Regions from separate parts of the Homo sapiens genome. Here regions 2 and 3 are each linked to region 1. Evidence: fine-mapped expression QTL. A gene starts in region 1. Each other region holds a variant in brackets. All regions are shown on one strand. Distances are between the middles of the regions. Region 1 holds the start of SLC26A1 (solute carrier family 26 member 1). Region 2 overlaps GAK (cyclin G associated kinase). Region 3 overlaps TMEM175 (transmembrane protein 175).

Region 1 (4,153 bases):
GGGTGCTGCTGTTGGCTCCGGGCTGCAGGCCGTCCTGGGAGGGGTCAAAGCCGGCCAGCTGGAGCTCCCGGTCCACCACCTGCCCCACCATGAGGCAAAGCAGGCTGAAGATGCCCACGGAGACATGCCGTGAGGTGCCCATGAGGAAGTAGATGAGGTTGGCGAAGAAGGACGTATAGAGGCTGTAGATGGGCTGCAGCCCGGCCAGCAATGAGTAGGCGATGGCCTGCGGCACCAGGATGATGCCGATGACCAGCCCAGACATGACGTCGCCTGCCAGGTACTCCCGCGGGCGGTACTGACGCAGCCAGCGCGTGGCGGGGAGCAGGTCCTGCACCAGCGCCCGGACGCACAGCACACTGCACGAGCAGCTGCACCACAGCCTGGCCTTCAGCATCTCACGCAGACCCCGGGGTGCTGGGCGCTGCCGTCGGACCGGCACCGGCCCTCTGCCCTGCTGCAGAGGCTCAGGGGACTCGTCCATCCTGTTGCGTCAGGTCCCGTGGCCGACCTGCGGCCGAGAAGAGGGCATGGTCACAGGAGCCCCCGGATCCAGGGCCAAACGACAAGGTCCCCGGCAGCAACGGGCCCCTTGGGGCGGACCCCTCGCCCACCCAGGGCCGGGGATTGGTGCTGGGCCTTCTCCTGGCAGCGCGGGCCCCAGCCCCCTGCCCGGTATGGATGGACGCTGGGCCCTGCTGGATCCAGAATCCATCGTGAGGTGAGATGGGATTACGACACCAAGCCCATGCCATGGGGTGTGCTGAGGCCAGCAGTGCTGAGGGGCGGCGTGGCGGCACCCTGTCCAGGCTCAGCTCCGGCCTATTGGCTCTGCGGTTCCTGGCTGAAAACCACCCTGTAGCCTCCTGAAGCTCACCTCCCCAACGGGGCAGGAACAGGCTGGGCTGCCACCACGCACATGTGCCTACCGTCAGAATGTCACAGTCACTGGACACAGGTGCAGGCAAGCCTGAGTCCAGCTGCTCCGTGTCCACCTCCCTGGCTCCCCAGGTTGGCAAACGGTCCTGCTGTCCACCCCATGCCCACACCAGAGCCCTCCCTCCCCCATCCAAACCATCGCCTGCTCTCCTGGAGACACCTCCACCCACCCCTCTGTCACCTGCCCTGTGGGTCCTGGGGCTGGCGGAAGTCTCAGGAAGAGGCCTCCTATGTCCCTGCCAAGCTTTGTGGGTACTGGGACCCCAAGTCTGCTGGGGGAGCAGCACTCAGACACTAGCCTAGCCCATCCGCCTGGACTTGGGACAGAATTCTGAGAATATGCCTGGACGGGGGCCCCATCAGGGCCAGCTGGGAGGGGAGGAGGGTGACTGGCGTCTGTCTCCCCTGCCCAGACAGTTCTGGGACGTGAGGCGCCCTTTTTCCCAGGCTGCACCAGCTCACTGTGGAACGGCCATGACACACTGTCCCGAGGCAGCACCGAGAGGGCCCAGCCCGCTGCACACAGTCACCCTGGGCCGGCAGAGCCGGAAGGGCACCTGACCTTTCCCTTGATCTCGGAAAACACCGTGGCGTTAGGGAGGCGGTGCTTAGAGGCCTGACTGGTCCCACGTGAGGCCTCGGGTCTGTCCTGTTTGCAGACTCCAATGTACTTTCACTTTAAACATTCTTCTCAGCGACGTTAGGCAAAGACTTTGCTCCCAGGACACCAGGTGCCCAGGACACCCTGGAGCCTGGGCTGAGCCTGCTGTTTGCACGCTGGCCCAGGGTGTGCGAGCTCCAGTCTCCTGGCGGGTGTGTTGGGGCAGTGAGCCCAGCCTGGTAGGTTGACACATGCAGGCTGGGCACAGCACCCCTGGGGCACAGAGCGGGGGTCCTGGCCCTCAGGCAACATTGCAAGAGTTGTGTCCCCTTCCCTGGAAGACCCCACCACACTGGGTCCCTGGATGCCCTGAAGCCCACCCCAAGCCCCTGGGGTCCAGGTGTGTGGAATGGGGACAGTAGGGCCACCTGCCTTGAGCCTGAGGGTGCCCCTAAGAAACCACGAGTCCAGGGCATTTCTGGCCTCGGCTCCCACGCCCCCCTCTGCTGCAGCTGAGATCTGGGCCCAGGATGGTTCTTACCTGAGGGAGTCCTCACAGGCGCGGAGGGCCCTGGGATGACGAGGGGCTGGCAAGACCACCGAGGACCGCAGGGCCCTCTGGCTCCCGCGAGCAGCGGGGAGAGTGGGGGTGGTGGCGCCAACCTGCAGGCAGTGGTCTGTGCCCTGGACTCTGTAGTTCAATTATTTACCTACAGATTGCTGAGTCATGGGTTTCTCCAGCCATGTTACCTGATCGGCTGATCCGGGAGTTGAACTGTAATCAGGGGCTTGTAGGAGTTAGAGCTGTGTGGGCCTCTGAGGAGCTCCCAGCCTCCCAGGAGCCGCTGCAGCTGTGGCTCTGCGGCCCTGCCGGGGGGGCTTAGGGACCAGCGGGAGGCGGGGGCTCAGGGGCTGAGCACAGGTAAACCTTCAGCTCTGGGGTCTGGGGTCGAGTGCAGCAGCCTTCAAACCCAGGCGGGGCTGAGGGAGGCTTGGTCTCCGTGTCCAGTCGCCGGACACCCTCCTGGTCCTGCAAGGAGCCAGCCTGGTCCAAGCTGGAGCAGGGCAGAGGCTGACAGCCGGCTCAGCCCAAGGCTGCCGGTGCGTGCATATGCGTGTGTGCTCGCGTAAGCCCTGTGTGTGGTGCTCACCGCCCAGGGCGAGGACTGCCGGGGTCAAGGTGCCGTGACTGGCCAGGAGTCCTGGTCTGACTGGACCCAGCACCGACCCACAGCGCCTGGTCACCCTCACGGCTCCTCTGCCCTCCCCTCTACCACAGACCAGGACCGGCAGTGCCTGCCTCATAGGGCTGGGGTGAAGATAAATGATTTTTTTAAGTGAACTAAATTAGGCCCACACGTGAAAATAAGGGTAAGCTGCTTTTTAAAAGGAATTATTAGCCAGGCACGATGGTTCACTCCTGTAATTCCAACACTTTGGGAGGCCTAGACAGGAGGATCGCTTAAGGCCAGCAGTTCAAGACCAGCCTGGTCAACATAGTGAGACGCCCCCCACCTTTTCTTTTTTTTTTTTTGAGGCGGAGTCTTGCTCTGTCACCCAGGCCGGAATGCAGTGGTGTGATCTCGGCTCACTGGAAGCTCTGCCTCCTGGGTTCACGCCATTCTCCTGCCTCAGCCTCCTGAGTAGCTGGGACTACAGGCGCCCGCCACCGCGCCCGGCTAATTTTTTTTTTTTTGAGACGGAGTTTCGCTCTGTTGCCCAGGCTGGAGTACAGTGGCATGATCTCGGCTCACTGCAAGCTCTGTCTCCCGGGTTCAAGTGATTCTCCTGCCTCAGCCTCCCGAGTAGCTGGGACTACAGGCACCCGCCACCACGCCCGGCTAATTTTTTGTATTTTTAGTAGAGACGGGGTTTCACCATGTTAGCCAGGATGGTCTTGATCTCCTGACCTCGTGATCCACCCACCTCGGCCTCCCAAAGTGCTGGGATTACAGGCTTGAGCCACTGCACCCGGCCGCCCCCTGCCCCCCAACCTTTAAAAAATTAAAAGTAAAAAATTAGCTGGGTGTGGTGGTGTGTGCCTGTATCCCAGCTACTCAAGCGGCTCAGGTGGGAGCATGGCTTGAGCCCAGGAGTTTGAGGCTGCCATGAGGTATGATTAGGCCACTGCACCCTATCCTAGGCCACAGAGCAAGAGCCCGTCTCAAAAACAAACGCTGTCATTGGCCCAGCACTTTGGGAAGCTAAGGTAGGAGGATTGCTTGAGCCCTGGAGGTCCAGGCTGCAGTGAGGTATGTTTGTAGCGCTTCACTCCAGCCTACAAGTCTTTTTTTTTTTTTTTTGAGATGGAGTCTCGCTCTGTTGCCCAGGCTGGAGTGCAGTGGCACAATCTCGGCTCACTGCAGCCTCTGCCTCCCGGGTTCAAGCGATTCTCCTGCCTCAGCCGCCTGAGTAGTTGGGACTACAGGCGTGTGCCACCACGCCCGGCTAATTTTTGTATTTTTAGTAGAGACAGGGTTTCACTATGTTGGTCAGGCTAGTCTTGAACTCCTGACCTTGTGATCCACCCGCCTCGGCCTCCCAAAGTGCTGGGATTACAGGCGTGAGCCACCGTGCCCGGCCAGTTCTGTCTCAAAAAAAAAAAAAAAATTC
Region 2 (4,113 bases), 93 kb before region 1:
CAGAAAATTAAAAACCACCCATAAATCAAAGAAAGATAATCCAGTTAATAATGGGGCTCACAGGCCGGGCGTGGTGGCTCACGCCTGTAATCCCAGCACTTTGGGAGGCCAAGGCGGGCGGATCACCTGAGGTCAGGAGTTCGAGACACGCCTGACCAACATGGTAAAACCTCGTCTCTACTAAAAAATACAAAAATTAGCCAGGCATGGTGGCGGGCGCCTGTAGTCCCAGCTACTCAGGAGGCTGAGGCAGGAGAATCGCTTGAACTTGGGAGGCGGAGGCTGCAGTGAACCGAGATTGCGCCGCTGCACTCCAGCCTGGGTGACAGGGCAAGACTCCGACTCAAAAAAAAAAAAGTATACAGAGACACAAAGAACTAGAAAGGGCCACACAATTGTGAAGCCCACATTACACCTTCTGGCGCAGCTCTGATAACAGGGCATGGGAGCTCGGGCCAAACAGGGAATCCAGCGAGTGCTGCTGAGAAGCCACGGACGCCAGAGGCTGCACGCGTGACAAGGCAGCAACGCAGTGACTCAGCCCCACAGTGCTCACGCCCCACACAACACCCATCTTAATGGCAGAGCCATGGCAAAACAGCTGCCAGCACCAGGCATCCATGTGGAACGAAAGGAGAAAGCCTCGCCCCCAGCTCACACAATCAAGGAAGCCTCAGCCCCAACATTTAGGCAAACCACAGATCTTTCGGAAGATGGCCCAGAGGAGCTCCTTCTGAGATAGGGAAGGAGCGGCTTCTTCAACAAGACAGACAGCACAGACGTGGCAGGATGGCCAGCACAGGCATCCCTCTGGAGAGGAAGAACAATGCCAGCACAGGGCTCCAAGAGGGCAGCACGCCAGCCACAGATGGAAGGTGCTCGGCACACACGCGGTCAGTACGGGCTCCCACAGGCAGCACAGGGCTCCGAGAGGGCAGCACACCAGCCACGGACGGAAGGTGCTCGGCATGCACGCGGTCAGTATGGGCTCACACAGGCAGCGAGAGGAAGGCAAGTCGAGGAAAGGCAGGCATTTTCCCAGAGGAAGCCCAAGTTCTGATAAGCCAGCCTCATCGACAGGAGAAAAAATGCAAACTAAGGCCATGGGCACCCAGGACAGGCTGAGGGAGCAGCACCCGCCATGCCCCAGGACAGCAAAGTGCAGAGCCGTGGCATCCAAGAGTGCAAGGGGACGCCCAGGGTTAGATGCAGACGCTCTCCAACCACAGCGCCCTGCAGACCCCAGTCCTAGAGAGGACGCCTGCTCCGCGGACCAGCAAGCTGAACAGGCTGTCCACGTGGTGCAGACAGGATGGCTCACCATAAACAAGGGAAAGAAACGGACACACATGCCACCCATGGCCGACCAGAGAAACCCAGTGAAGCCTAAGGCCACCACTGGCCCCCGAGGAGATGCGGGCCACATACAGGACCGGGGCCTCTGAACCACAGGGCTGAGCAAGAAAATCAGATGCAGAGCGTGGGGCGAGGCTCCCCTCACAGGACGCCCAGAGAAAAGATCAGCGACCCTGGCTCGGATGCAGAGCACACAGCGGGGAGATGCAGTGGCACACGGCCACTGAAGGCCCAGGAGTGCCCATCCCCTC[G/A]CGTGTGCCCGTTCCCATTCTACAGCCAACAGAGACGAAGCTGTGCGCACAGCAGGACGATGCACAGGGCAGGCGAGTGGGGCCACCTGTGCCCGTTCCCATTCTACAGCCAACAGAGACGAAGCTGTGCGCACAGCAGGACGACGCACGGGGCAGGCGAGTGGGGCCACGTGTGCTGCCTGCCCCTCCGCAAACAGCCGTCCAGACTCCCACGGCGGAGGCCACAGGTGAACACACGCGGGCTGCAGGGCTGGCCTGGGTTCCCGCCACGCCGCTGTGGAGCAGCAGCAAGGCCAGTGCTGTGAAGTGCAGGCCTGGCTCACAGACACGGATTCTTCACCAATTCAACCCTTCTGTTTCTGTTCTCCTTAAAATACACACTCAAGCCCCGCTACACGACCCATCACACTTCAAAAATGCGAACCAGGAGGGTCTCGGTGTCATGAGAAAATCCACCACTCAGAGACTCCTCAGGAAGAACCACCCAGACAGCAAACAGCACCTTCCACGGGCAGGACTGGCCCCTCATGGAGCCCTGCAGCCCCTTCCGTCAGAATGGGGCCTCAGGCGCATGGGTTTCTGGAAACCAGGGGTCTTGCTTGCAACCTTGAAGAAGCTTCCCTCAAAAGCAACCCTGTGTGCTGGGCAGAATGTACTTTTAGAAAAGTAAAATACAAGGAAAGAAGAAACAGAAGGAAGAGAGGGAGGGAGGAAAGGAAGGAGAAGGGGTGAAAGGGCCTGGGGCATGGCTCAGGAGCAGGCTCCACAGCGGTGGCCATGGGAGCGAAAGGGCCTGGGGCTCAGGAGCAGGCTCTATGGCGGTGCCCACAGGCTTCTGCCATGGGGCATCTGTCCAGTCGGCCACCTTACACCCTGGCATTCTAGGCCCTCTGAGTTCAGGGGACAAACGAAAAAGGCCACACTTACCCATTTTCAAAATCTACGTGAAGACACCTGTGCTATAAAGTAGGAGTGTACAGCCAAGTAGAGAAAAGGCAGCCCTAACCAGAGAAACACAGAGGGAAGCTGCCTGCCAGAGCCTTGGCCCTGGGTGGGCTGAGGCAGGCTGAGGCGGAATGAGCCTGTGCAGTTAAGAACAGCTCAGCATGGGTGCCCACGGCTTAGGCACCCCCACCCAGGGCACACAGGGAGAGCCACGGCCTTGGATCCCCCACCCAGGGCACACGGGGAGAGCCACGGCCTTGGATCCCCCACCCAGGGCACACGTGGAGAGCCACGGCCTTGGGCCTCCCACCCGGGGCACACGTGGAGAGCCACGGCCTTGGATCCCCCACCTAGGGCACACGGGGAGAGCTGGGGGGCTCTGAGGCCTCCTAGGCACCCACGAGCAGACGCTGGAGAGGAGGCGGGGCCCAGGTGGCTGCATGGGCAGACATGAGCTGATGCACGGGGTGCAGGGCCAGGTAGACACAAGGATACAGCTCCCACCTCAGGTCACACAAGGTCAATTCCAGATGAACGAAACCTCTGGACACAGGCCAGGTAGATTTCAGCAGCTGGAGGAGCAGCTGAGGCGGGTGCTGGGAGCAGGATCTGAAACACAGCTCCGTGCTCCACAAGAGACGCCACGGGGCTGGGGCCTCACTGGCCTCCTCGTCCCCTTGGCCTGGGCAGTGGCGGGGAGCCAAGGACAGCACAGGGCATCCTCCACAAGCCGTGGCCAGAGGCGCCGCTCCCGATTAGCGAGGTCTGAGAGAAGCCACACTTTGGGAAAACCAGGGAAGGCTGAGAACAGGAGGGCAAGAGACAAGGCTCGGTTCCTCCCACCTCACTGCGGATAATGGTGTCAAAACCACATAAAAAATGTCCTGGCCGGGCGTGGTGTCTCACGCCTGTAATCCCAGCACTGTGGGAGGCCAAGGCGGGAGGGTGACTTGAGGTCAGGAGTTCGAAACCAGCCTAGACAACATGGTGAAACCCTGTCTCTACTAAAAGTACAAAAATTAGCCCGGCGTGGTGGCATATGCCTGTAATCCCAGCTACTCGGGAGGCTGAGGTAGGAGAATCGCTGGAACCCAGGAGGCAGAGGCTGCATGAGCCGAGATCGTGCCACTGCACTCCAGCCTGGGCAACAGAGCAAGACTCCGCCTAAAAAAAAAAAAAAAACAGAAATGTCCTCACGTCCCCAGAGACATGGACAAAAGTATCTGGGAGTGATAAGGCTTTAAAACTTTGGCAGCCTGGGAGCGGTGGCTCACACCTGGAATCGACCCCTTTCAGAGGCTGAGGCGGGTGGATCACTCGAGCTCAGGAGTTCTGGACCAGCTTGGGCAACATGGTGAAACCCCATTTCTACTGAAAATACAAAAACTAGGCAGGCGTGGTGTGCGCCTGTGGTCCCAGCTACTCAGGAGGCTCAGGTGGGAGATCACCTGGGCCAAGTCGGCCGAGGCGGCAGTGAGCCCCGTCAGTGCCGCTGCACTCCAGCCTGGGCTGTAGAGTGACTGACTCAAAAAAAAAAAAAAAAAACCCCAAAAAACCTCTT
Region 3 (4,113 bases), 46 kb before region 1:
TTTGTTGCTGCCTCAGCTTCTGTTTTCCCCACGTCTTTGCCGTCCTGTCGTCTCACTCCCCGCCGTCTGTCCCCACCGTTCATTCCAGCCTCGGTTTCTGTTTTCCCCAGGTCCCTGCCCTCCCGTCGCCTCACGCCCACCACCCTGGCTGGCCTCTCTCCGTTTCATTTGCACCTCCCCGATCTCCCTGATTGCTAGTGAAGTGGAATGCCTTGTGTGTTTGTTTTTCCCGGCTGGAAACCAGTGAGCCTCTGTCCATTCTCTGGGGTGAACTCTCCTTGTTTTTGTGCGTCTCGCCTTGGTGTGAGCAGACTACAGCACATCCCTCTTCCTGCGGACCCTCTAGCTGGCCACATATTTCAGTCCCCTGATGCCCTTGGCCAAGTAAACAGCACCCCCTTTGGAGTAAAACCTGGGGGCTCTGGCTTGTCACCTCCCGCTGGTGCTGAAGGGCTCTCCCCATACCCTTCCTGAAGAGGTCTCCGCCCCTTAAATGGTGGAGAGCCCAGCCTGTCCTGCCCCCGGCTGCTCCTCTCCTCCTTCCCGGGTGCCACTCCCTCGGACCACCCCCACATTTCCAAGTAGCACAGAAATTACTTCTGTTTCTAACACGGCTCAATCCGAGGTACCTTTGAAGGCTGCAGCTCCAGCCTGACTCCTTCCATCCCCATAGCTCCCCTGCCCTGAGACAGCCTCCGGTGCTTCTGCTGTGTCCCAGGAAACAAGCCTGAAGCAAGCACTCACCATCCCTCAAGAATGTGCCCTGACCTACCTTCCTCACCACGGTGGCATCAGGGCCAGGTGGGCTCCCCCTTCTCCGTCACCCCCCACGGCAGCCCCCAATACTCTTAGGAGCTGCTTTCCCACATGCTGTGTGTCTCCTGGGATGCCAGACCTCCGTCACTCCTCTCCTAGGTCATAGCAGCCCTTCTGACTGGCGTCCTTGACACACTGCTGCCCTCTTCCCTGCTCCGGGGCACCTGGCTGCAGGTGGGGCTCAGCCAACATGGGGCTCTCTGGCCACATTCTATGTTTGGGGAACTTGTCTCAGTGTGCCCAGCCTCCACCTCGGGTGCAGGGTGAAATCCATAGTGCCTGGTTGGCACGAGGCTGCCCACTCGGGTGCAGGGTGAAATCCATAGTGCCTGGTTGGCACGAGGCTGCCCACTCGGGTGCAGGGTGAAATCCATAGTGCCTGGTTGGCACGAGGCTGCCCAGCACCATGCAGCAATGGCTCCTGCAGCCATACCTCAGTTCTGTCTCCGTGAGGCGCTGGGGTCTCTTCTGTCCAGAGTACTCTCCACCTGGCATCTTATTCATCTTCCCAGATGCATCTCTGATATTAAAAATGCCTGGGGAGTGCTGTGCTGAGCCACAGCTGTGGCGTGTGCCCAGTGTGCACCCAGCCCCGGCTCCCACAGGCGGACTGGAGTGCCTGCCCTGGTGCTAACTGGCTACATATGCAGGGCCTTGGTTTCCCCAAAGGTCACCAAGGGAGAGCGCGGCCCCTGTAGGAAACAGCCCCAGGCACGCGTGCACAGGCGCCGAGACCGAGGGAGAGCGCGGCCCCGTAGGAGACAGCCCCAGGCACGCGTGCACAGGCGCCGAGACCGAGGGAGAGCACGGCCCCTGTAGGAGACAGCCCCAGGCACGCGTGCACAGGCGCCGAGACCGAGGGAGAGCGCGGCCCCTGTAGGAGACAGCCCCAGGCACGCGTGCACGGGCGCCGAGACCGAGGGAGAGCGCGGCCCCTGTAGAGAACAGACAGCCCCAGGCATGCGTGCACGGGCGCCGAGACCGGGGGAGAGCGCAGCCCC[T/C]GTAGGAGACAGCCCCAGGCATACGTGCACAGGTGCCGAGACTGAGGGAGAGCGCGGCCCCTGTAGAGAACAGACAGCCCCAGGCACGTGTGCACGGGCCCCGAGAGCGAGAGCGGGGGAGAGCGCGGCCCTGTAGAGAACAGACAGCCCCAGGCACGTGTGCACGGGCCCTGTAGAGAACAGACAGCCCCAGGCACGCATGCACGGTCAAGGGCCCCGCAGGGTGCTGTGTTCCTCTTCCACGTTTAGGTCGGCCTTGGGGTCTGTGATCTCTGTGCCTTTCCTTGTCTCTCCCGTTTCCTGAGGAGAAACTGAGGCCCAGTCCACCCAGATCAGTGTTCACCAGTAACAGGGCCGGGAGTGGCATCTGTTGTTGGCCTCTCAGCCTGGAGGCCAGAAATTTGAGGGGCACCTGGGAGAGGACAGAGCAGCGTGGACCCTTCCCCTGCTCAGTGGCGGCCAAGCCCCCCCCCATACCAGTCCCTGTCCCTGCACCAGGGCTGAGGCTGCATGGCCGACCTCCAGGAGCGCCCCACAGGCACACTCAGACCTGCCTTTCCTCCCAGGCTCCTGTAACCGCCAGGCAGCGGCCCCGCCATGTCCCAGCCCCGGACCCCAGAGCAGGCACTGGATACACCGGGGGACTGCCCCCCAGGCAGGAGAGACGAGGACGCTGGGGAGGGGATCCAGTGCTCCCAACGCATGCTCAGCTTCAGTGACGCCCTGCTGTCCATCATCGCCACCGTCATGGTCTGTACGGGGCCCCTGCTTAGGCCTGCCCCACCCCGAGCCTCTCGAGGCACTGCCCAGCCCACCTCAGACCTGTCTAGGTCTTGCCAGCATCCTTGGGTCCCCCAGCTCCTCAGGCAGCTTAGGGGGGCCCAGCACTGCCCTCGAGTCCCCAGTACTGCCACACCCAATCCAACAAGCGTCTCTTGCTCTCCTGCTTCCTTCTGTCTCTTTGCCCCCTCAGATCCTGCCTGTGACCCACACGGAGATCTCCCCAGAACAGGTAACGGGGCAGGCTGTGCTCTGCGTGGTGTGGCCCTGCGAAGATATAGGGTCCCCGAGGCTCGACCTGGCACAGGGTGCTGACCCTGCACGCCTCGAAGCTTCTGAGGCTTAGGAGGCAGAGGCGGGAGGCGGGGGCCTCCTTGGAAAGGGAGGGAGCCAACAAGTCCTGCTCAGCCTGTGCTCACCCCGGCGGAGGTCCTGGCCTCCTGGGAGGGTGGGAGACTGGGCTCCTAGGGCTCTGTTTCCGAGTTCAGTGGACAAAGGCAGCACCCTGGAAGTGAGCCAGAGGACAGGTTGGAAGAGGAAGGTTCCGGGCCTGCCCCAAGGACAGAAGTTTCCTCTGCGGGAGGGCAGCTGCCCCAGCAGGCAGGCCCCTTACGTAGCTGCTCTGAGTAAACGCGGCCAGCGCCCCGTCTCAGCGGGGACACTCCCACCCCGGCTGCTCCTGCAGGCCTGGAGGTGAGCGGGAAAGGGTTTACAAGCAGAGTTTCCACCTTGACTGTTTCTGAGCTAAAGAGCCAAACAGCATCTTAGAAGGGGAATGACTGGAGGGCGTCTGGGGCCCACACCTGCCTGGCTCTGTGTCCTCATGACAGGGTCGTGCGGCCCAAGCTTCATGGGTGCGCAAGGCACAGCAGTGACCACGTAGCCCTTCCTGGGCCAGTACTGAGGTTGGGCCTCCAGTCCTGACTCGTGAGCTGAGCCTGGGGGACGCCGAGAAGTCATGGGAGCTGCTTAGAGTTCGGCTTTCTCAGCTGTGCGAAGGGGATGATGAGACTTTACATAGGGTTTTCATAAGTAGAAATGCGGGTGGAGCCTGGCCCAGTCTGCAGGGAGACCCTGGGCACCAGCAGGCAGCAAGCAGCACAGGCACTGGGACCCCAGAGCCGCTCCCGCCCTCCCTAGGGGGGCAGCTGCTCAGGAAAGCTGCGTCCCCACCGAGGCCCATGGGGTGGGCTTGGCCAAATGCAGTCGTGAGGTACTGGCCTTGGCTGCCCCTTTCAGAACGGGGTCGCTGAGGTACGGCCACATCCACCTGTGATGCCCGTGCCAGAGGGCGCATGACAATGAAGGGCCCGGGTGGTTGAAAATAAAAACCTGTGAACCTAAACCTGCTCCGACTTCTCTGCAGCCAGGGCACCTTTCTAGGACTGTGGTGTTTAGTGCCCTGTCTTTTCTCTGTTGTCCTAACTGGGTCACAGGGAGGGTCTGAGTCTCAGAAAGTCCTGGAGAGTCAAAAGCTCATTCAGAGAACACATTTATGTGAAGAGGGAAAGGCCTG

The links. PIP is the estimated chance that this variant, and not a neighbour inherited with it, causes the effect.
Region 2: its variant is the best candidate, but not a certain one, in a credible set for the expression of SLC26A1 in esophagus muscle (GTEx, PIP 0.75).
Region 3: its variant is the best candidate, but not a certain one, in a credible set for the expression of SLC26A1 in pancreas (GTEx, PIP 0.52).

The regions. Positions count from the first base shown.
Region 1 is chr4:991,220-995,372 of GRCh38, forward strand. It overlaps SLC26A1 (solute carrier family 26 member 1), which reads right to left and starts at 2,185. Exons shown (of 3, transcript NM_022042.4): 1 at 2,082-2,185; 2 at 1-511. The coding sequence starts at 484. The region is part of intron 2 of IDUA (alpha-L-iduronidase); the gene reads left to right. RefSeq lists enhancers at 1,522-2,333, 2,334-3,145.
Region 2 is chr4:898,518-902,630 of GRCh38, forward strand. All of the region lies in intron 5 of GAK (cyclin G associated kinase), which reads right to left. Among named protein-coding and RNA genes, the nearest start is that of GAK, 32 kb to the right of the region's middle. The variant G/A (reference allele first, on the strand shown) is at 1,608.
Region 3 is chr4:945,326-949,438 of GRCh38, forward strand. TMEM175 (transmembrane protein 175) reads left to right here. Exons shown (of 11, transcript NM_032326.4): 2 at 2,384-2,567; 3 at 2,791-2,829. The coding sequence starts at 2,415. Among named protein-coding and RNA genes, the nearest start is that of TMEM175, 15 kb to the left of the region's middle. RefSeq lists an enhancer at 1-404. The variant T/C (reference allele first, on the strand shown) is at 1,818.